Homo sapiens: one gene and its partners. The protein of the gene in region 1 interacts with the protein of each later gene in a biochemical or structural test. Each region holds a gene or a part of one and is shown in the gene's direction. Other genes may lie near its edges.

Region 1 (4,152 bases):
CACTTGCCTCTTAGAGGCATATCCAGTGAGTCTTTAAAGCCCTACGTTATAGAAAAATGTGAAGTATGTCTAATAAAGGAGTACAGTGGAAGGTTTAAAAGCACATTGCTGATTAGTGGGGTCAGGATGGGAGGAGAGCCCTGATTTTAATGCAGTGTCATAGTCTCATAGGTGATTTCCCCAAAAGCAAATAAATGCTCGATGGATTTTGGGTCCACCATGCATCTCTGAAGTAGAAGTGACAGATTTTCAAGGCTAAGGTAAGTATAGCATTTTCTCAACCCTATTACAATAGAGCACAGGATCATAACTGTTCTGTTTGCTCTGATGCGTCCCGCAGAGCAGTGCTTTTTCTCGGTGTGAACTGTGGATCACTTGTCTCAGTCATCAGGATTCCTGGACCCTGTAGGATTTACTCTCAATCTTTAGGGGTAGAGACTAGGAGCCTACATTTTGAACAAGCATCTTTTTATTTTGATGAAGTTTGCATTATTACTCCTAACAACGTGCCCTTTGGCAGGTAGCTTCCACTTTTCTGGCCTCATTATCTGTAAAATTGCATACTTAGTTATCATTGAGGTCTCAAATGCAGTTCGGGTTCCTGGTTGGTGAACAATTAGATGGGAAGGCTGAAAAAAAAAATACTCCTGAGATTCTGAATCTGTAAGTATGCAATGGGACCTGAGAATCAATCTAATTTCTAAAAGATTCCCAGATAGAACTTTGTTGAGCTATGTTTAGGGACCAGTGCACACCTTGGTGATAGAACCTTTTTGAAACTTTGAAAAAGTTAAAAGGGTTCTGTGTAATGTTACCTAAGAAGCTTATTTTTAAAAAAGGAAAGCAGTGCTTAGGGCCATATTGTTTTGAAATAGGATCTGAGCACCATTTAAATTTTTATAAATTATTTTTTAGAGGCATCACTTCTTTAAAGCCCATCAGATTAATGTGCCATTGGTTTGAAAACCATGACATGAGATGATTTCTTAAGGTTTTATTTGTGTCAGACATGAATTTTAGAGTATTTCTGGGCTATAGGTCATTACAGCTTTACTTATTTATTTTTTGGAGACAGGGTCTCACTCTGTCACCCAGGCTGGAGTGCAGTGTCGTGGTCTTGGGTCACTGCATCCTTGACCTCCCCAGCTCAAGCGATCCTCCCGCCTCAGCCTCCCGAGTAGAAGGTACTACAGGTGTGTGACACCACGCCTGGCTCATTTTTGCATTTTGTGTAGAGAGGGGGTTTTGCCATTTTACCCAGGCTGGTCTCGAACTCCTGAGCTGATCCTCCCACCTCGGCCTCCCAACGTGCTGGGATTACAGGCATTAGCCACTGTGCCCAGCTGGGTATGGATTTCTGAGTGGAGGGAATGTGAACAAAGGAGGGCCCAGGCATGTTTGCAGAGTGGCTGGGGGCCCTGCTTCACCACGGCATAGGGACGGGTGCAGTAGGAAGAAAGGTAGCCTCAAGGCCCCCATAAATAAATTGGTGCATTAAGGAAGGAATATTAATCACATCCAGGAGGGCTCTGCCCTAACTGCTGAGAATCATAAAAGAAATGGGGACATATTCTGGCGAAATAACAGCTTTGTTAATTGAGCTCTTACTGTGTGCCTTTGCACTGTGTTAAGCACATGGTGTTATCACACTTGCTACTCACAACAGCTCTGAGGTTGATAGTACAGGTATCTTCTTTTTATGGAGCAGGACTCTGAGACATCATAATTGCTTGGTATATGCAGCCAGAGTTGGAAATCCTATCTGTCTGATTTTGGAAACTGTGTGCTTACCATTACATATCTTATGTGGAAATAAAATGTATATGATTAATTACAAAGCTGAAAATCGTAGTTGAAGCATCATATAGTGCACAGGGCAAGCAAAGCAGCATAAAAGGCTTCATCTGTAAGGGTAGGTTTGTTGGGTAGGAGCTTTTTGGGGGAGGTGACTTTAGGATCAGTTGTAGCATGAGAGAATATGACACCTTCTTCCTTTAGAGGATCTAAAGGTGTAGCTTTAGAGGATTGTAGGGTGCCTTTGCCCATTGTGTCATTTGGTCCTTCTTAAAATTTGAGTGTTTATTCTCTACATGGCACTCTTTTAAGCCTTTGTGTGAATTAACTCAGTCTTCTCAGCAATCCCCCATTTTTTCATATGTGGAAACTGAGGCATGTTATGATACAAAGCTTGTCCAAGAATTCAGAGCTAGCTTGTCCAAGAATTCAGAGCTAGTAAGTGAGGGAACTGGGATTTGAATTTAAGCAGTCTGTCTCTAGAGTCTGCTCAGCTGGCCTTTTTTTCTTTCTTCTTCTTCTTCTTCTTTTTTTTTTTTTTTGTATAATAGGCCTGTGAGTTGGGAAGAGCAGGGTTTGTTTGGTGAGAAAGTTGCACCTTAGTGAATACCCAAGGTCTGAGGGAGGCTTGGAGCCAGCTCTGCAACCTGGCTCCCTTCTTTCATTAGCTTGACCCAAGCACAGGGAGATGACTGGGGCTCTGCCTTCATCTTCTCTGCAAACGGTCAGGGATACTCATGCAGTTTTTGAGTTTAAGTAGTAAACTCCTAAACTTCAAGTCATGTTTGTATTAGTGATTTCACTTGACCTCAGTACAACTCTGTAAAAGAGGCAGGGATGGATGATGTCATTTGTCAAATGGTAAAACTGAGGCGAAACAACTTGGCATTGTTGGTGTTGTGCGAAGTACATGCATAGGCTTTGGATTTGAGTTTGGCTCTGCCACTAACTTGATCTATGTCTTCAGGCAAGTAACTTAAATGCTCTGAGTGTTGCATTCTCTGTGAAGTGGAAATAGCTGTACTTTGCCCAAGAGTTGTGAGAGTGACATGAATTGCTATATGTGAGGTTCTTAGCATAGTGCCTGGCAAGTAGAAGGTACTCATCTGTGAATGGGGTAGATAGCAGCTGTCTTCATCACTGTCATCATTGTTGGCTCACATCAAATCAGGACCAGAAAACCCTGTTGACTTCTGGGTCTTAAACTGCTGTATCAGTGAGGGGCTTCCTCCTCATACTCATTGCCAGGAGTAGAGTAAGGCTTTTAATTTCATCTCTAACCAACTCTGATAGGGCTGGAAATGTGTATGGAGTTCCAGACCCACCATGGGGCCCCAGTGCTAGCTTCTTAGCCCTCCTTTGTAAGGTTTGCACTAGTTTGATGGGAGAGGGATTTTTTTTGTCTTGATTCTGAAGCTCTTAAAGAAATGCTCCTTTTTCTCCATAACTTGAGGATTTCACAATTGTATTGGAATTATTGGTGTTAAGGAGTTAGGTCCATCTCTTGGCAGCTTGTGAAGGGTGGGCAGGCACCTGTGAATTCTTCACTGGCTTCTTGTAAGAATGACTTTACTGGAGGGTGCTGAGTTTGTGATTATCTCCTCTGCTGCTAGAAAACTCCGTGAACCCTGGTACATATAGCGTGATAAATCAAGTCCTGTTTTTGCTCCTAACTTGCATTATGGTGTTTGATACTATATCTTCATTTCTCCCATGGTAGTAATAACACTGTTGGAAAGAGCTCTCAGTTGGAAGTTGAAGATCCAGGTTCTAGTTGAGGCACCAGAGTTTCCTTGGGCAAGTTGCCATACCTTTTTGGGCCTTGGTTTCCTCATCTCAATAAAATGAGTTTCTGTTCCTTTTTGGTTTGTGTCTTTTTTTCAGTAGGCCTTCTTTTTCATAAACAAAAGCTTATATAGAGCCCCACTGTAGAAACAGAAAAGGTGTATGAAACAGAGTTGCTGTAGTTAATGCAGGCCCAGCAGCTTTACTCTTCCCACTGCCTCCTTGTTGCAAACAGAGATAAACTTTGTGCAGCCCTAGTAACCTCTAAGGTGTTGCCAAGGGATTTGAACACGACTGGTGCAGGTTCATTTCTGTAGCCTCTTAAGTTTCAGGATTTTTTGCTAGCTATTGACAGGTAGTTAACAAAAATCTATAAAACCTGTATACTAAATATACAAGTAGACTAGTGAGTCTTCAAGAATTTTGTGATTATTATCCCTATATGGAGAATCTTTTTAGATTTTTACTGATATAGTTGAGAGATTCTAAGTTTGGTTCAGTCTGTAGTTTTAAAAAAAATGTATAGCAGTAACCAGTAAAGACCGAGTTGGTTTTTGTTTATAGGATAAATAC
Region 2 (3,500 bases), 9.9 Mb from region 1:
TCTTCTATGCCTTGAAGAGTGCTGCACAGAGTGGCCTCTTATTAAATATTTCACGAAATAATACATATTCACCTTCATTGAAGATGGGACTGATGAAAAAATGATGACAGCCGTGCACGGTGGCTCACACCTATAATCCCAACACTTTGGGAGGCTGAGGCAGACGGATCACTTGAGGTCAGGAGTTCAAGACCAGCCTGGCCAACATGGTGAAACCCCGTCTCTACCAAAAATACAAAAATTAGCCGGGCGTGGTGGCACATGCCTGTAATCCCAGCTACTTGGGAGGCTGAGGCAGGAGAATCACTTGAAACCGGGAGTTGGAGGTTACAGTGAGCCCAGATTGCACCATTGCACTCCAGCCTGGGTGAAGAAGCAAGACTCCGTCTCAAAAAAAAAAAAAAGACAAAATTTTGAGGGATGTAGATTTTGAATGTAGACTTCTATGTTAGCCAGATTGATATTCAGCTGTGATGACTGTCGAATGTATCTGCAGACATAAGGATTCAATCATCCATCTTTGTTTTCTGGAAGAGAAATAATTTACCTTATTGTGTTAATATATTTATATACTAAGTAAAATGCTGTTGTATATATTCGAATGTGTCTGCAGACATAAGGATTCAATCATCTATCTTTGTTTTCTGGAAGAGAAATAATTTACCTTATTGTGTTAATATATTTATATAGTAAGTAAAATGCTGTTGTATAGATACCAGTGTTCTTTTTCTACTTTTTTTTTTTTTTTTTTTTTTTTGAGACGGAGTTGCACTTTTGTTGCCCAGGCTGGAGTGCAATGGCGCGATCTTGGCTCACCGCAACCTCCACCTCCCAGGTTCAAGCAATTCTCCTGCCTCAGCTTCCCTGGTAGCTGGGATTATAGGCATGTGCCACCACGCCCGGCTAATTTCGTATTTTTAGTAGAGACGGGGTTTCTCCATGTTGGTCAGGCTGGTCTCAAACTCCCGACCTCAGGTGATCCGCCTGCCTCGGCCTCCCAAAGTGCTGGAATTACAGGCATGAGCCACTGCGCCCGGCCTATTTTTCTACTTTCTACAATTAGGGAAATACAAGTTAGTATAAGTGACTCAAGAATAAACATTTTGAATAGATTAGCAATCTGCAAAAGATCTTGGAGAGATACTCAAAAATCCATCCTTCAAAAGCATACAGTGGAAAACATTTACAAAGTCTGTTGAAACTTCAAAATAGTTAATTCCTTTATTTACAGTATTCTCTAGAAATACATTAAGACCTTCCCAGTTCATTCTACAGGGCTAGCAAAACCTGCTTTTAAAACTGGAAAATAAGGGCCGGGCCTGGTGGCTCATGCCTGTAATCCCAGCACTTTGGGAGGCCGAGGCAGGCAAAGCACGAGGTCAGGAGTTCGAGACCAGCCTGGCCAACGTGGTGAAACCCTGTCTCTACTAAAAATACAAAAAATTACCCCTGGTGTGGTGGTGGGCGCCTGTAATCCCAGCTACTCAGGAGGCTAAGGCAGGAAGATCATTTGAACTCAGGAGACGGAGGTTGCAGTGAGCCAAGATCGCACCACTGCACTCCAGCCTGGGCGACAGTGTGAGACTCCGTCTCAAAAAAGCAAACAGGCCGGGTGCGGTGGCTCACGCCTGTAATCCCAGCACGTTGGGAGGCCGAGGCGGGTGGATCACGAGGTCAGGAGATCAAGACCATCCTGGCTAACACAGTGAAACCCCGTCTCTACTAAAAGATACAAAAAAATTAGCCGGGCGCAGTGGCGGGCGCCTGTAGTCCCAGCTACTGGGGAGGCTGAGGCAGGAGAATGGCGTGAACCCGGGAGGCGGAGTTTGCAGTGAGCCGAGATCGCGCCACTGCACTCCAGCCTGGGGGACAGAGTGAGACTCCGTCTCAAAAACAAACAAACAAACAAACTGGAGAGTAAGGCCAGGTGCGGTGGCCCATGCCTGTAATCCCAGCACTTTGGGATGCCAAGGCAGTCGGATCACTTGAGGTCAGAAGTTCGAGACCAGTCTGACCAACATGGTGAAACCCTGTCTCTACTAAAAATACAAAAGATAGCTGGGTGTGGTGGCACGTGCCTGTAATCCTAGCTACTCGGGAGCCTGTAATTCCAGCTACTCAGGAGGCTGAGGCAGGAGAATCACTTGAACCCAGGAGGTGGAGTTTGCAGTGAGCCGAGATTGCGCCGCCACTGCACTCCAGCCTGGGCGACAGAGCGAGACTCTGTCTTAAAAAACAAACAAACAAACAAAAAACCAGCAACACCTTTTCTAGGAATATGCTCAAAGAAACTTATACATGAGCACTTGATTCATGAAATGGTGTACCTTGTTCACAAAACATTGCAACTTGTTTCACCATTCATTGGATAATGTGATAGATTTACAACAGAAAATATTTGGCTGGGCACAGTTTCTCACGCCTGTAATCCCAGCATTTTGGGAGGCAGAGGCGGGTGGATTAACTGAGGTCAGGAGTTTAAGACCAGCCTGACCAACATGGTGAAACCCTGTCTTTACTAAAAATACAAAAATTAGTTGGGCGTGGTGGCAGGTGCCTGTAATGCCGGCTACTTGGAAGGCTGAGGCAGGAGAATTGCTGAAACCCGGGAGACAGAGGTTGCAGTGAGCTGAGATCTAGCCAACAAGTGAAACTCAATCTCAAAAAAAAACAAAAAGAAAGAAAGAAAGAAAAAGAAAATATTTGTACAGCAGTGAAAATGGATGAACTATAGCTGCAGGCAACAACATGGAGAAATCTCCAAAATCTAATGTTATATGAAGAAAGTACATCCCATAAGACTACATACAGTATAATACTATTTCTATAAAACAAAGCCTAGTAAGATAAAGCAGAATATCATTAAGTATACATTTATCTGTGATATTGCAGGTTTTGTTTTTTTGTTTGTTTGTTTGTTTTGAGATTGAGTCTCGCTCTGTCGCTCACGCTGGAGTGCAGTGGCGCGATCTTGGCTGACTGCTACCTCTACCTTTCGGTTTCAAGCAGTTCTCCTGCCTCAGCCTCCCGAGTAGGTGGGATTACAGGCGCCCACCACCATGCCCGGCTGATTTTTGTATTTTTAGTAGAGATGGGGTTTCACCGTGTTGGCCAGGCTGGTCTCAAATTCCTGACCATGATCCTCCCTCTTCAGCCTCCCAAAGTGCCTGTGTTACAGGTGTGAGCCACCATGCCCAGCCCAATGCAGGTTTTGTTTGTTTGTTTGTTTTTTGTTTTTTACAAAACTAAATGTGCTTATTGGCTGGGCATGGTGGCTCATGCCTGTAATCCCAGGACTTTGGGAGGCCAAGGTGAGAGGATTGCTTGAGCCCTAGTGAGAGCTTGTCTCTACAGAAAATTTAAAAATTAGCTGAGAATGGCGGCACACACCCATAGTCCCAACTACCCGGGAGCCTGAAGCAGAAGGATCACTTGAACCCAGGAGATTGGTCTTAGGCTGAGGTGGAAGAATCGCTTGAACCCAGGAGGTCGAGGCTGCC
Region 3 (2,176 bases), about 24 Mb from region 1:
CCAGTCCTGCCTTAACCTGCAGGAACAGTACCTGGAAGCCCACGACCGTCTCCTTGCAGAGACCCACTACCAGCTGGGCTTGGCTTATGGGTACAACTCTCAGTATGATGAGGCAGTGGCACAGTTCAGCAAATCTATTGAAGTCATTGAGAACAGAATGGGTGAGTGAAGACGAGCTGCTTCATGGTGATGTTGGATCCAGCAATTAACAAGGAAGAAAACAGTTCTTTTTTGAGCCATTACTAATCACTTTATTCTTTTTAGCTGTACTAAACGAGCAGGTGAAGGAGGCTGAAGGATCGTCTGCTGAATACAAGAAAGAAATTGAGGAACTAAAGGAACTGCTACCCGAAATTAGAGAGAAGATAGAAGATGCAAAGGAGTCTCAGCGTAGTGGGAATGTAGCTGAACTGGCTCTGAAAGCTACTCTGGTTGGTTCCGTTAACATTTTGATAATAGCATGTTTGGTACCATTTATGTTAATGTTCTATTTGCCAGGAACTTTTCATCATGACTTGGTTTCCAGGGAGTTGGTGGGCTCATCTAATTATTCCTATCAAGTAATGCAGTGGTTAAGAGGAAATACCCTGGAGCCCCAGACTATCTGGGTTTTAATTCCATACTTACGTGTGGCCATGGGCCTTTCTCTCCCTCAGTTGACCGATTTGTAAAATGGGGATAATACAGGTTGAGTATCCTTACCTGAATGCTTGAGACCAGAAGTGTTTTGCATTTCAAATGCTTTTGGATTTTGGAATATTTGCATCATACTCAACAGTTGGATACCCTTAATCTAAAATCTGAAATGCTCCAGAGAGCATTTCCTTTGAGTGTCAGTCAGTCCTCAAAAAGTTTCAGATTGTTGGATTAAGGGATGGGATGCCCGACCTGTAGTACATATGTGTAAAATATACTTCTGACAGTACTGGAAAAATAGACATTTCTTAAAAAATGTAAGTTGCTATTTCCATCTCCAAGAACTCATTTGCATAAATTAATGAGGCATTGAGAGGCATTCACCACAAATTGCCTGGTTCTGTTTTTGGCACAGACCTTTTTACCCTGCAGGTAGGATATAGAAGATTTAGTTTATTATGTACACTCTATGTATAGACTATGCTCTGGGTGGCTGCTAGACAGGCATAGGTGGGCCAGGGGTAGAACTGGATACTATATGGAGGCCACTAGCATTTCAGGTCTTAGTCAGTTGTTTGGATGGTGATGGGTTCCTGTTACAAGGCTGTGGGCGGCCTGGGTTCTATCTTCAAACTAATTTGGATTTGTCATTTCTCGCAGGTGGAGAGTTCTACTTCAGGTTTCACTCCTGGTGGAGGAGGCTCTTCAGTCTCCATGGTGCGTATTCAGGTGGTTTTTTGGTCACTTACATTAAGTCTCAGTGTTGGCTCATGCCTGTAATCCCAGCATTTTGGGAGGCCAAGGCAGGAAGATTGCCTGAGGCTTGGAATTCAACACTAGCTTGGGCAACATAGTGAGACCTTGTCTCTGAAAAACTAAAAAATTATAAAAGCCTCAGCATTGATCTCATATAGCTTGTACAATTGCTAATAAGGGCTTATTTTGCCAGATTGCCAGTAGAAAGCCAACAGACGGTGCTTCCTCATCAAATTGTGTGACTGATATTTCCCACCTTGTCAGAAAGAAGGTAAGTCTACATGTGGTGTTTCTTTTCTACCGTTTCCTCAGACTCCATTTTTAATCCCTTTCCTATAAACCCCTCCCTATAGTTGGTGCATATAAGACACTTATTTTCCAAAGGTGGTAAGGATTTGTGAGTGGAGACTGTTGTGTTTTGTTTTGTTTTGAGACGGAGTCTTGCTCTGTCACCCAGGCTGGAGTGCAGTGGCGCAGTCTCGGCTCACTGAAACCTCTGCCCCCCGGGTTCAAGTGATTCTCCTGCCTCAGCTTCCCAAGTAGCTGGGATTACAGGCGCCCGCCACCACGCCTGGCTAGTTTTTGTATTTTTAGTAGAGACTGGGTTTTGCCATACTGACCAGGCTGGTCTTGAACTGCTGACCTCGTGATCCACCCACCTCGGCATCCCAAAGTGCTGGGATTATAAGCGTGAGCCACTGCCCTCAGCCAGGGAACTCTGAACTCCTGTTCTGTTTCCTGACTCAAACACAGGAATTCAAACTTGTACAGTGATTACCATTCA
Region 4 (3,500 bases), on another chromosome or scaffold:
TGGCTCACTGCAACCTCTGCCTCCTGGATTCAAGTGATTCTCCTGCTTCAGCCCCCTAAATAGCTGGGATTTCAGGCGCCTGCCACCATGCCCAGCTAATTTTTGTATTTTTAGTAGAGATGAGGGTTTCACCATGTTGGCCAGGTTGGTCCCGAACTCCTGACCTCAGGTGATCAACCCTTCTGGGCCTCCCAAAGTGCTGGGTTTACAGGTGTGAGTAACTGCGCCCAGCTGATTGAAAGATTTCTATGCTGTATGCACCTGCTCTACTGAGAAGGTCATGGAAAAGACAAGAGTTCAAAGGCTGATAGAATTCTGGAACTTCAGGGAGGGATAGATTAAGATCCTGCATGGTTTAGGCCTTTGGACACAAAACTATAAGCAGTAATTGTTAATATCACTCTAGCAGTTGAGTAGAGGACTGACTCAAGGTGTCAGAGATAAACACAATCGGACATTAAAGTGGTGAAAACAGATTTTATTCAGCCTACTGACAGTAGGGGAAAGAGCTAAACTCCAGTCTGATTTGTGGAGGGGTAACTGGGCCTTTTAAAAGAATGAGGGGGCTGGGCCTGGTGGCTCACGCTTGTAATCCCAGCACTTTGGGAGGCCGAGGCGGGCAGATCACGAGGTCAGGAGATGGAGACCATCCTGGCTAACATGGTGAAACCCCGTCTCTACTAAAAATACAAACAAAAATTAGCTGGGTGTGGTGGCGGGCGCCTGTACTCCCAGCTACTTTGGGAGGCTGAGGCGGGAGAATGGCGTGAACCCGGGAGGCAGAGCTTGCAATGAGCCGAGATCATGCCACTGCACTCCAGCCTAGGTGACACAGCAAGACTCCATCTGAAAAAAAAAAAAAAAAAAAAAAAAAAAAAAGGAGTAGAGAGGGATTTAAGCAGAGTTAGAGAAGTGAAAAATTACATAAAGTAGGAAGTGGGGTTGGTCCATATGAAACCCATCTGAGTTTGCCAACTGGCGCTTATCAAAATCAGGCTCCCACAGAGACAGAGACAGGGGTCCTATCTTCATCTTGAGGCGTTGGCTGGAACAAACAGTAAATTTTTTTTGGCAGCCTTAAGTTTTCTTAGGCGGACACTTTAAGGAGGGATCAGGTCCTCCTAGGAATAAGGCCTTGAGCTATTTGAAACTTGTGTTTGTTCAAATCTTTATAGTCCAAGGTTGAAGGCTTGTGAAGAAGAGGTCTCAGAGGACCCTAGCTAGGGTTTGGTCAGGGAGAGAATCTTTTGCCCAAGAGGTAGACTATTTGCAAGGAGATCAGACTTTTTTTTTTTTTTTTTTAGATGGAGCCTTGCTCTGTCGCCCAGTGGTGCCATCTTGGCTCACTGCAACCTCCGCCTCCTGGATTCAAGTGATTCTCCTGACTCTACCTCCCGAGTAGCTGGGATTACAGGCACACGCCACCACATCCACCTAATTTTTGTATTTTTAATAGAGATGGGGTTTTACCATGTTGGCCAGGCTGATCTCAAACTCTTGACCTCAAGTGATCCACCCACCTTGGCCTCCCAAAGTGCTGAGATTACAGGTGTGAGCCACCGCACCCAGCACAGATATTTTTACTTACAAGTTTTGGAAAAGGATAAAACCTTCAGCTAGGGAAATGAAAGTGAATAAAAATTTGCATAACTTGACCAATTAGAAATAGATCAGGAATAGGCCAGGCGCGGTGGCTCACACTTGTAATCCCAACACTTTGGGAGGCCGAGGCGGGCGGATCACGAGGTCTGGAGTTCGAGACCATCCTGGCCAACATGGTGAAACCGTGTCTCTACTAAAAATCCAAAAAATGAGCTGGGCGTGGTGGCAGGCGCCTGTAGTCCCAGCTACTCGGGAGACTGAGGCAGGAGAATCACTTGAACCCAGGAGGCAGAGGTTGTTGCAGTGAGCCGAGATCACACCGCTGCACTCCAGCCTGGCGACAGAGTGAGACTCCATCTCAGAAAAAAAAAGAAATAGGTCAGGAATAAAGAAAACACTTTTCTCTTGCTTTTCAAACTCAGGAACTAATAGATATGAATTATTGGATATCCAAGCACACCTTTGTTATTTATTTTATGAAATTTAGAAACCAAATATAGATTTGGATAATGCAGATCCCTCTGAATTTGGTCTGAATTCAGAAACCAAATAGATTTAGGTAAGGATACTTTTAAATTCGGTACACTTCTTCTTTTTTTTAATTAACTCCCTAAGATTCTTGACAGTTCCTCTGTCTGCTTTCCTCTCATATATGAATTGCTATTGATTAGATTAATATGTAACCTTTTTTGTAGAAGACCCTGATAATCCTACTTTGTTCTAGGAAATATGCCTGTTATAGCAATTTCTTTAGGTAATTTCATCCATTGTGTGAATTTATTTTCCAAATCGGGGACAGAGGCAATATCACTGTATTCATTCTAATTGGTTATTATAAAAACACCTAGTAATATCAATTATTGCTGCTAAAACAGTTCAAATCTTTGTGGGGGGGAAGTCACCATCCCTTATTTTAATGCCTTATGATTTCATAGGAATTAAATAGTAATGATTTTTTTTAACTTTAGGAAATAACTGAAATCATGTTATGGTTTGGTGAATTATTAACAGAATCTTATTAGAAGAATTTAGGCTTCCAAAGAAGCTGGAAGTTATTTGAAATTAAATTATAGATGTGTAAGTTACTAATAGTCACATCACAGCCTTGAAATTAGATACTGAGGGTTTTGTTTGTTTATTTATTACCAAATCCATCAAACTCTTTAAACTGACTTTGGTCATTGTTGGCTATTGTTTGTCATTCTTTTAAAGGACACAAATTAATAACTCTGTGTGTGTGTGTTGTTTTTTGTTTTTAGGGTCCACCAAAATATACTAAATCTGTTCTGAAAAAGGGAGATAAAACCAACTTTCCCAAAAAGGGAGATGTTGTTCACTGCTGGTATACAGGAACACTACAAGATGGGACTGTTTTTGATACTAATATTCAAACAAGTAAGTCTAAATGGAATCTTATGTTTTTGGCTTAAAGAGATTCTAAATACTTGGGTGGCAGACAGATGAGTAGTTAGCAGTACCTTTTTCCTGACTGTCACCTACTTTCATCCAGACATACTTTCCCCCAAGATCTACTTGGAAGAGGTCTTCAGTTCACTGATTATTGGCTGGCTAAAGACCTCTTGTTCTTTGGAAAGCAAAAGATAAGGAATCTCAGTCTAAACCTGGTTAATGTCCCAAAGTAAGGCATTAGTATTTGAATAGAAAAGGCAGGATAGTATGCTGTTTTGTGATATAAGTATAGGTCCTACCCCTCTACCCTTTGTTAAGAATGTAATTATTTTTACAGCCAGAATTTTATTGATGGATGATCTTTGTAAATTTTTTCCTTCTTTTAAAATACATAGTATTGTAATTCTGAAATCAAACCACTATATTTTTCCACTGGAATTTAATAATTTCCAATGGAAATTTCTTAATAATAAATTAGAGTATATCAT
Region 5 (3,500 bases), on another chromosome or scaffold:
CGAACAAATACAGATTTCCCCAGTCCTGTTTTGGCAGAGACCTGCCTTTTAACCCACTTTAATAGAGATAACTTTGTGTCAAAGTTAAACTACAGTTAATAATTCATAATGAAAACTTAAAATGTTTCTTTACAGTAGTTGTGTAAAGATACTGCTGTTACCTTAGGTTAAGAATTAAGCAAAAGATAATCTTCTAACATAGAATTGTTTTCCAAAGTGCCCCCGTCTGCCCTATTTCCAAATAACAAATTTAGCAAATATGAATGAAACCTTAATTTTTGTGAATAGTATGAAATCACAGCATAAGTGTTCACGTTTTTCTTTCTTGTGTCTAAAGGATCTCTCTTACAATGGAAGTTGACAGGAATATTATAAATATTATAAATGTCTTTGTTGCATAACTTTCAAATTTCTGGTCGTGAATAGTTTTCAGCTTTTAGGTCTGTTATTTGAGTTTTGTAGGTGTACTTTGAGCTTGATCAGGTACAGTGGAAATGTTACATGTTATGTTTTAGTTATGACTACCTGGAAGATGGGGAAAGATACACCTCTTAAAATTGATTTAGGAAAGAAACGCCAATTTAGTATCTGGGAAAGGACACAACACATTTTTAAAAATGTGTAGTGCTTCCCATTAAGCTTAACGTAAAACTTTTAAGCATTGAGAATTGTTACCATAAATATAGTTTCTTGAGAATAAGTTGCTCTCTTTTAGGTTTCAGCCAGAAAGTCCATGTATATACAGATTACAGCAGGTCCTTGAATAATGTTGTTTCAAGATAATGTTGAGAAAAAAAACTGTCTGTGGAGTTTACACGTTCTCCCTATCCCTGCATGGGTTTTCTCTGGGTACTCTTGATTTCCTCCCACATCCCAAAGCTGTGCACGTGAGGTTCACTGGTGTGTGGAGCTGTGTGTGTAAGTGTGAGTGCTTTCTGCAGTGGATGTCCTGTCCAGGACTGGTTCCGGCCTTGCACCCTAAGCTGCTGAGATAGGCTCCAGCCACCCCAACCCTGAACTGGAATAAGTGGTAAAAAAAAAAATTTTTTTTTTTGAGATGGAGTTTAGCTCTTGTCACCCAGGCTGCAGTGCAATGGTGCAGTCTCGGCTTACTGCAACCCCATGCCTGTAATCCCAGCACTTTTGGAGGCTGAGGTGGGCAGATCACCTGAGGTCAGGAGTTGGAGACCAGCCTGGCCAGCATGGCGAAACCCTGTCTCTACTAAAAATAAAAAAAATTAGCCGGGCTGGGTGGCGGGCACCTGTAATCCCAGCTACTCAGGAGGCTGAGGCAGGAGAGTTGCTTGAACCTGGGAAGCAGAGGTTGCAGTGAGCGGTTATCGTGCCATTGCACTCCAGCCGGGGCAACAAGAGCAAAAGTACTTCTCAAAAAAAAAAAAAAGGCATGTATACTTCACATTTATTTCAGTGTTTAATATTCGAAGTGTTTGGTCTTTATTTAAAAGTTTGGTGATATTTTTCTGATGAGAAATATGCCCTAGAACCTAACTCTTGTTTGTATCAATAAGCGTGTGTTAGTCGGAAGTCTCAGTTTCCAAGAACCTACCCCTTATGTTAAGAGAGGATTTACTGTATTTTAAGTTTAGAAATGGCCATGACTCATGGAACTCTCCTCCATCCCCATTCTAAAGTCCAGATCATTGATATCATTCTGGGTGTTATCAAAATGGATACTGCTTCATCCAGTCTCTCTCCCCAATACCACAAGGTAGTCTCAGTTTGTGGGGCAACTTTCTTTGAGCCTTTTTACTGGATTGAGTAAGAGTGTAATTCAGTATAAAGATGAAACTTTCATGAAAAGGGTATCTTTTTGTGGGATTCCACAAGTCAATCCCAGAGTTTGTCGCCCAGGCTGGTCTTGAACTCCTGAGCTCAAGTCATCTTCCCACCTCAGCCTCCTTAGTAGCTGGGATTATAGGCAGAGGCCTTGTTTTCATGAGCCTCTAAATTGGATCTTCTTATTTGATGTGATACCCAGTGACACAGAATTGTTCAATTTGAGGAAATATAAATTCCTCCCCTCTCAAATAAGAGCTTTGGAGTTGCTTTTCTCTCAGAATGGGATTTTAGAGCTTTCAAAAATGTTTAGAGAATTTTATGACAGATTTGTTTCACACTAGACCTATAACAGGTTATTTTACATTGACTTCTGGTGATGGAGACATTTGTGGTTGAAATGCTTCTCGTGTAATTTTCTACATGAGCTTTTCTTTAAATAAAACTTCACCAGAGTCAAGGCTGTATACCATTTGTGCTGTTCCAAAAAATATAAATTGCCAGTTATCAGTTGAACTATGAGAGGACATGTTAGTTGCTATGGTTATTTACCCCCACCATTTTATTATGAAAAATTTCAAACATATAACAAAGTTTATGAAGTTTTATTGTACATCTCTTTAGATACCATCTACTTTCTATTTTTGCCTCCCTGTTTCATGGTGCTGAACACCGTCTACTATTTTTTTTTTTTTTTTTGAGACGGAGTCTGGCTCTGTTACCCAGGCTGGAGTGCAGTGGTGTGATCTCGGCTCACTGCAAGCTCCACCTCCTGGGTTCATGCCATTCTCCTGCCTCAGCCTCTCGAGTAGCTGGGACTACAGGTGCCCGCCACCATGCCTGGCTAATTTTTTTGTGTTTTTAGTAGAGATGGGGTTTCACCGTGTTAGCTAGAATGGTCTCGATCTCCTGACCTTGTGATCCGCCCACCTCGGCCTCCCGAAGTGCTGGGATTACAGGCGTGAGCCACTGTGCCCGGCATACCTTCTGCTCTTTGTCATGAACATTTTACCATACAGTATTATGAAGCTTGAATAATGTTGGCCAAATCCATTGTTCTCACCTGCTAAGGAGATAATAGGATTATAAATATATAGCTGTGTTGATCTTATCAAATGCCACGGGATGGATGGGCTTGGATATCTGTCTTGTTGACAGCTTAATGCTCTGAACTAGAAAACCTTACTGCAGAGAAAAGTAATATTTTTAAAGTGGTAAAATGGGAATTACTGCAAATAGCTTAATTTGTTTTTTAAGTGTTTACATTCCCATACTGGTGAATAAGGTTGATGTAACAGTGATTTATGTCACCAGATAAATGGAAGTAGAGAAAAATTTCTGCAGGCTGTTAATTGCTGTATATTTTCTGGGATTACATATGTTTATTTGTTAAAGAAGTAGACTCAGGGAACTCCCTCAAAGTATATTTACTGGAAGCAAAAGTGGAAAAATCTATTTGAGAAAGTGTTTGCTTTCGATTAAAAATTAGTCTTCTGAATATCAAATCTGTAACCCATCTGGCATCTGTTTAATCTGGAATCTAATTTGGGAAAGAAGTGTGATGACTATGTGGGTTTATAACAGTAATGGAAGCAAAACTGGCCATTTTATTATGATAGAAATTTTGTGTCATGTCTCCCAGACAATAAAGGCTAAGAAAATCTATTTAAATACATTGGGGTCTTTTCCCCTGAATGAACATG
Region 6 (3,500 bases), on another chromosome or scaffold:
AAGAAACTTTTGAAGAGACATATAGTTAACAGTTTGTGGGAAGGGAGTTCTGAAAGGAGGCATTTGGGGTGACTTTTTAAGTAGGTTTGCCTGACATTGCTCTACTTTGTGAAATGACCAACTTAAATTAATGTATACTTTTAGCCCCCGAACCTAGTATTCCTTATTACTTGTAATTCAAAGGAATTGTGCTGTTTTACTTTGCATGCTTTCTTTAATTACAAAATTGTCTACAGTATCTTATATATAGTTGTTATAATTTTTACATATTTTTTTCCATCTTGAAAATGATTTTGTTTTCATAGTAGTGTTTAGCATTCAGTATTTTACTGTAATAAAGTGTGATATGCTATATTTTTGGTTTCTTTTTTCTTCCCTGTTTTACTGGTTCAATAAACAGTCCAGTAGTAAGCAATACTTTGTAAAGATACTGAAATAGTTTTGTGCCTATGTGTTTTGTCTCTTCTTTCTTTAATGCTGCTGTAGTCATTTCCTGGAAGGATATTTTCCGTTAACAGCTTTGTCTTGGAAACAACTAACATGCAGTAGGTTTCCCCCTCCCCCCATCTTTTGGTAAGGACTATAATACTGAAATTTTGAAAATTATTACTACATTGAAAATCAGCTAAACTGCAATCTCAAAACATAAATTACACTTAATCATTGGTGCTTATGCTTTGGCTAATGCTAATTTAAATAGACTTCTGCATGTATACTTCAAAGTATTATAAATACATTTCTGCTTTATAAAACTGATCAAATGAGAAGTGATCATTGAGTAGTTAACCACTTCCTATCTGGTATTACAGTTAATTTATGTGCTCAACAACAACAAAATTGGCTCCCAGATAGCTACTTGAAGTAACCTATAGTCATAACTGCCAGGGAGAATATTGTCACAAGTTGAATCTGGAAAGGCATTGTAAGGCCAGTGTACTAAGATTTTGATGACTCTACAAATTATATTTTCTGAACTTGTGGATACACGTTTCACTATGATTAGGTGGTTTTTGCTAAATTGGGCAATAAAAGTTAAAGAACCATGATTTCCAAAGACATAAAACAGCCTCATGTTAAGAATAAGCCTTTTCCTCCTTTATGGAAGAGAGATTGAAAATTGTGCAGATGGTATAATGAAAATTCTCTGTAAAATCTAGGTAGTAAAGTGGTTAACGTATAATTTGATTTTTGTTGTGTAACAATTTGTGATTCAAAAACTTTGTATTTTGACAGATGATCTTCCAAAACCCAAGACTACTGAAGTAATTAGGAAAGGCTCAATTACTGAATACACAGCAGCAGAGGAAAAAGAAGATGGACGACGCTGGCGTATGTTCAGGATTGGAGAACAGGACCACAGGGTTGATATGAAGGCAATTGAACCCTATAAAAAAGTTATCAGCCATGGGGGTAAGAGTTACTGAGGATTTTTCAGATTGTTTAATGCAATATCAGAATTCTTTTTTTTTTGGAAGGATATCTGTTTATTAAGAGTAAATAAGCCCTGTACAGAACACAGGCGCTAGGTTGAGAGACTCGTCTTTTGTAGGACATTTCTTCCTGCTAACCAGTTCCTGGAGGGCTTGTTTTTTTTGTAACTTTACACAAGGGGCACTAATGGAAAATATAGCTTTCTCAAGACATCTGATGTCAGTTTCCCATTGTTTTGCTTCACAAACATCAACAAAGTAAACCTGAACATGCTTAGCAATTTCCCAATGTTCTTTGCTGACATTACTTTTGACATACTGTGTCAAAATTCTTAAGGTCTCCCCTCCTTTGGTAAAGTAGGCAAAACCTTACAAGGAAAACACTATAATACGTGGAAATATACTGAGTTAGATTTCCAGTCACCTGCTCTATGGCTCTGAGATGCACTATATCCATAATGGTTCCTAGGACTGTGTCCACCTGATGGTTTGGAGTACGGAAAACCAACCCTTATGGCTTAAGAGTCATCTCCCATGGAAGACGATGCTGGCCTTCTGAACGCTGGGGCTCATGGGCTTGTTGATGTGGCTTTCTGGTGTGCCAGGATCCCCTGGCAGCTCCTGTATACTTCAGTCAAGCAGTCCAGCCGGGGCTTGGCACTCTGGAAGACGGGTACTACTTGGGATATCCCATGTGGTTCCACTGGATCCTTCAATAAGATGCAGAGGTAGTAAATCACCTTCTGCATGTAAATAGCCTCATTGATGACAATATCCTTGACCTTGCCCATTTCTATGAAGGTAGTGCTTTCTTAGCCTGAAGCATAAGATGAAGTCATCTGAATGCCAAGGGAATCAATGATTAACAGTCTCCTGATCAATCTTCACAAAATGGAGATAACCAAGCAGACCTAAGAGGGTGATGAAGATGGCAGCAGAGAGGATCATGCTGTTCTCGCAGAGGGTGAAGAGTCCGTAGGCTGCCAGCCACACCGTGCAGGTGACAGCGGTGAGCGAACGCAGCGAGAGCCCAGGGCAGCTGAGGCAGAATTCCCGGCAGGAAGGGAAGTAGTAGCGGCGCTGCAGGGCCAGGCGGCCACCGCAGATATCCGAAAAGCTCCGCTCATCCTCCATGACACCCCAACTCTGCCGCCCGCACCGCACCGCGCGGCACTCCACTGCGCTCGCCTGCCCTAGCCGTTTCATGCAATATCAGAATTCTAAATACTTTTAGAAACTCTGCCTAGAGATATTATGTAATTTTGAAAGAATAATAAGCATTTCTCATTCATTTTAGAAACATGACAGGTTTAAAGTAAAAGAATAAAAGTACCATTTAAAAATGATTATATGCATACAGTAAGTTGAAAAAGTACAAAAGAATTTGTAGTGAAAACTGTCAGGTTGGGCACGGTGGCTCAGGTTTGTAATCCCAGCAATTTGGGAGGCTGAGGCAGGAGGATTACTTGAGCCCAGGAGTTCAGGACCAGCTTGGGCAACATAGACCTCGTCTCCACAAAAAAATAAAAAAAATAAAAAAATAAATAAAATTAGCCAGGAGTGGTGGCATATGCCTGTAGTCCCAGCTACTTAGGAGGCTGGGGTGGGAGGAGAGAGAGCTTGAGCTTGGGAAGATGAGGCTTCAGTGGCCGTGATCATCCCACTGCACTCTAGTTTTTTGTTTTGTTTTGGTTTTTGACCCTGTCTCAAAATTAAAAAATTTTTTAAACTGTCTCTAGGCTACCCAAAACTGGGACTGAACAGTCTCCCTAATTTATAAACAGTGAAATGCTCTGATCTTAAGTGTGCAGTTCAATGAGTTTTGACAAATGCCTATATAACCATATATACCCATATATATAAAACCCATACCCCTAAAAATGTAGAACATTTTCATTGTCCCAGAAGAATTATTTAGTACCCCTGTGCAATGAATACTCAGCTTCGGTAGCCACTGTCATATCTACCCCCTGATTAGTTTTGCCTCTTCTAGAATTTCATATATAGTAACTAAAATCATCCTATGCACTCTTTTGTTTACTTTTCAGCATGAAGTTTTTGAGATTCATC
Region 7 (3,140 bases), on another chromosome or scaffold:
GAAGGGGAACGCACACTGATTGAGCATCGAGTGTGCCAGACATTGTGCTGAGCACTGTACACGTTACCTCGGTTACTGCTGAGAACCCAGAGAGTGATAATCATTATCTCCATTTTACAAATGAAAAAAAAACTACCCTCTTTTCTCAACTTGACACCCAGCAACAGAGAATTTTTTTTCCTTTTTGAGACAGAGTCTCACTCTGTCACCCAGGCTGGAGTGCAGTGGGACGATCTCCGCTCACTGCAACCTCCGCCTCCTGGGCTCAAGCGATTCTCATGCCTCAGCCCCCTGAGTAGCTGGGACTACAGGCATGAGCCATCACGCCCGGCTAATTTTTGTACTTTTAGTAGAGACAGAATTTCACCATGTTGGCCGGGCTGGTCTCCAATTCCTGACCTCAAGTGATCCACCCGCCTTGACCTCTCAAAGTGCTGGGATTACAGGTGTGAGCCACCCACACCCGGCCAACTGATAATTATTGACACGGTTTCTTTTATGTTCTATATTCTCTCCCACACATTTCACCCTTACCCCTCTACCTGAGGCCTAGCACCTCCTTGAAAAGTCCTCACCCAAACTTCAGACTGGGGCATGTCACCTCCTCTGGGCTCCTTGGCCTTATTTTCACCATCAAAACACTGATCTCCCTGTATTGTCCCTGTCTATTTCCTCTACTAGACCATGAGCTCCTTGAGGGCAGGGTCCTCTCTGAAGCTCAAGTTCTTAGCACAGGGTCTGGAAAGTATTAGTAATCGTTGAATAAATAAACCCAGGCAGATTATGTGACTTGCCCAAGGTCATATAAGTAATAGGTGAAGAAGAGGGTCAAGCCCAGGTCTTTCTGACTCCAAAACACCTGCTCTTCCACTCCTATTGCTTTTTGTGGGCCTACCTAACCAAACATCTTTCTTTTTTATTCCCCACCCCAAGGACTGAGGAGGAGAAGAAAGACTGGGTCCAGGTAACATCCAAGGCTCTGTGGTAGGGGGCTAGAAGAGTATTAACAGGTCTCCTAGGGGTTGATAGATTCTCCCTCAAAACTCACAGCTAACCAGAATGGTCCTGGACAACTGTCTTTCAGCAAACTTTACTATCCCCATTTTACAGATAAGCAAACTGAGGTGCAGAGGTTGAGCAGAAACTCACAAACTCTTCTTTTAGGAAGCTGGTTTCTCTGAGGGTGTATAAGGTGAGGGTGTCAAGCTCTGTAAAATCTTAAGCCCAGAAGGTGGCCAGGAAAGCCACCTGAGGTTTTTCAGCCACCACTCCCCCTCCCCCATTTTACACTTGTAACACTGAGACCTGGATTTGGGAGGGGATTTGTTCAAAGTCATCCACCTACCAGTGACAGAACTGGGTTTGAAACCCAGCTTTTCTAACTTCAGGCTAGGGTATACGAAGGTGAGGCGAGGGTAGAAATGGGTAGTTTGTGGGGTGATCTGACTTCTCATTTCTTACACCTCCTCCCCAGGCCATCAACTCCACCCTCCTGAAGCATGAACAGACGCTGGAGACTTTCAAACTGTTGAACTCAACAAACAGGGAAGATGAAGACACCCCACCCAACTCTCCAGTAAGAGTCCCCGCCCTCTTTCCCCTGCACTGGGACCCCTTCCAGACTTCCAAATGCCCACCTGACCTTTAGATGATCCTCTCCCTTTCCTAGACGGTAATGACCAGAGAGGCAATGCATGACTTCAGAAGCAGTCTTCCATTGGTAGGGCCACAGAGAAATCATTGGGGAAACTGAGGCCCAGAAAGTATAATAGAAGTGACTTGTCTTCAGTAGCACAGCTAGGAGCAGAGCCAGGACTTAAAGGCAGGTCTTCTGAATGTGGCTGCTCCCCCTACCCCCAGCCCATCCCCACCCCATGATAATCCAAGCGTTGGAGCAGGAACAAGGGCTGGCTGGACTGGGCTGGGGAGTAGCTGTCTCTGACCTGAGACCTGGCCCTCCCTACAGAACGTGGATCTTGGGAAGCGGGCACCTACGCCCATCCGGGAAAAGGAAGTCACCATGTGCATGCGCTGCCAGGAGCCCTTCAATTCTATCACCAAACGCAGGCACCACTGCAAGGCCTGCGGGCATGTGAGTGTTGGGAGGCAGGGGCAGAGCTAGGGAGGGGACAGAATGGCAGCCCAAAGGCCCACTGCAGAGTGGGTACCCTCCAAGTGGGGGGAGGCCACAAGTCTGCTGTGGGAGTTGGTATGCTGAAGGGAAGACCCGCTGGAATCAGGCTACTCTTGCCCACTTGCCACCCCAGGTGGTTTGTGGGAAGTGCTCCGAGTTCCGGGCCCGCCTCGTCTATGACAACAACCGCTCCAACCGTGTGTGCACTGATTGCTATGTGGCCTTGCACGGGGTGCCTGGGAGCAGTCCAGCCTGCAGCCAGCATACACCCCAGCGCCGGAGGTCCATCCTGGAGGTAAGAGCCAGCCCCTGACTAACTCTCCCACAGTGGGCAAATGGGTTCCAACTCTACCCAGTGAGACTGAGGAGGCCCGAGTATTTGGGAAACAGTAGTGATCAAGGGACCCAGGCTTGGAGTGAATAAAATGACGGCAAGAGTGAATGAAAGACAGTCATCTTTAAGTACTTAGACATTTAATCCCCACAGTAACTAATCTGCCCATGCTATTGTTCTCTTTATTTTACAAACGAGGAAACTGAGGCCCAGAGGGGTCATTTGCCCAAATTACACAGCAAATGAGTGGCAGCACTGGATTTTTTTAAAATTAAAAAATTGGCTGGGCACAGTGGCTCATGCCTGTAATCCCAGCACTTTGGGAGGCTGAGGCGGGTGAATCACCGGAGGTCGGGAGTTCAGGACCAGCCTGACCAATGTGGAGAAACCCCATCTCTACTAAAAACACAAAATTAGCCAGGCATGGTGGCGCACGCCTGCAATCCCAGCTACTTGGGAGGGCTGAGGCAGGCAAATCGCTTGAACCTGGGAAGCAGAGGTTGCGGTGAGCCAAGATCGCGCCATTGTACTCCAGCCTGGGCAACAACAGCAAAACTCCGTCTCAAAAAAAAAAAAAAAATTTAAAAATTGTCTTTTGTTATTACAAAGTAGGATAAGTAGACCAATATAAACAAAAAATAATAAAATACCGTATCCCTTCTACCCAAAAGT

The links.
Region 2: the proteins of CDC42 (region 1) and KHDRBS1 form a complex in vitro, tested with the Homo sapiens proteins (one large-scale study listed by BioGRID).
Region 3: the proteins of CDC42 (region 1) and NASP form a complex in vitro, tested with the Homo sapiens proteins (one large-scale study listed by BioGRID).
Region 4: the proteins of CDC42 (region 1) and FKBP3 form a complex in vitro, tested with the Homo sapiens proteins (one large-scale study listed by BioGRID).
Region 5: the proteins of CDC42 (region 1) and STAU1 form a complex in vitro, tested with the Homo sapiens proteins (one large-scale study listed by BioGRID).
Region 6: the proteins of CDC42 (region 1) and BNIP2 form a complex in vitro, tested with the Homo sapiens proteins (2 studies listed by BioGRID, with this or other methods).
Region 7: the proteins of CDC42 (region 1) and FGD1 form a complex in vitro, tested with the Homo sapiens proteins (one study listed by BioGRID).

What each region holds. Positions count from the first base shown.
Region 1 is NC_000001.11:22,097,709-22,101,860, forward strand, and holds the end of CDC42 (cell division control protein 42 homolog isoform 1 precursor), read left to right. Parts: 3' UTR 1-3,652; downstream 3,653-4,152. UniProt on the Homo sapiens protein: Plasma membrane-associated small GTPase which cycles between an active GTP-bound and an inactive GDP-bound state. In active state binds to a variety of effector proteins to regulate cellular responses. Involved in epithelial cell polarization processes.
Region 2 is NC_000001.11:32,016,868-32,020,367, forward strand, and holds part of KHDRBS1 (KH domain-containing, RNA-binding, signal transduction-associated protein 1), read left to right. Parts: intron 1-3,500. UniProt on the Homo sapiens protein: Recruited and tyrosine phosphorylated by several receptor systems, for example the T-cell, leptin and insulin receptors. Once phosphorylated, functions as an adapter protein in signal transduction cascades by binding to SH2 and SH3 domain-containing proteins.
Region 3 is NC_000001.11:45,615,041-45,617,216, forward strand, and holds part of NASP (nuclear autoantigenic sperm protein), read left to right. Parts: coding exon 1-161; intron 162-264; coding exon 265-431; intron 432-1,296; coding exon 1,297-1,353; intron 1,354-1,585; coding exon 1,586-1,663; intron 1,664-2,176. UniProt on the Homo sapiens protein: Component of the histone chaperone network. Binds and stabilizes histone H3-H4 not bound to chromatin to maintain a soluble reservoir and modulate degradation by chaperone-mediated autophagy.
Region 4 is NC_000014.9:45,120,982-45,124,481, reverse strand, and holds part of FKBP3 (peptidyl-prolyl cis-trans isomerase FKBP3), read left to right. Parts: intron 1-2,861; coding exon 2,862-2,997; intron 2,998-3,500. UniProt on the Homo sapiens protein: FK506- and rapamycin-binding proteins (FKBPs) constitute a family of receptors for the two immunosuppressants which inhibit T-cell proliferation by arresting two distinct cytoplasmic signal transmission pathways. PPIases accelerate the folding of proteins.
Region 5 is NC_000020.11:49,181,835-49,185,334, reverse strand, and holds part of STAU1 (double-stranded RNA-binding protein Staufen homolog 1), read left to right. Parts: intron 1-3,500. UniProt on the Homo sapiens protein: Binds double-stranded RNA (regardless of the sequence) and tubulin.
Region 6 is NC_000015.10:59,675,821-59,679,320, reverse strand, and holds part of BNIP2 (BCL2/adenovirus E1B 19 kDa protein-interacting protein 2), read left to right. Parts: intron 1-1,233; coding exon 1,234-1,410; intron 1,411-3,500.
Region 7 is NC_000023.11:54,448,095-54,451,234, reverse strand, and holds part of FGD1 (FYVE, RhoGEF and PH domain-containing protein 1), read left to right. Parts: intron 1-933; coding exon 934-964; intron 965-1,474; coding exon 1,475-1,576; intron 1,577-1,966; coding exon 1,967-2,092; intron 2,093-2,267; coding exon 2,268-2,429; intron 2,430-3,140. UniProt on the Homo sapiens protein: Activates CDC42, a member of the Ras-like family of Rho- and Rac proteins, by exchanging bound GDP for free GTP. Plays a role in regulating the actin cytoskeleton and cell shape.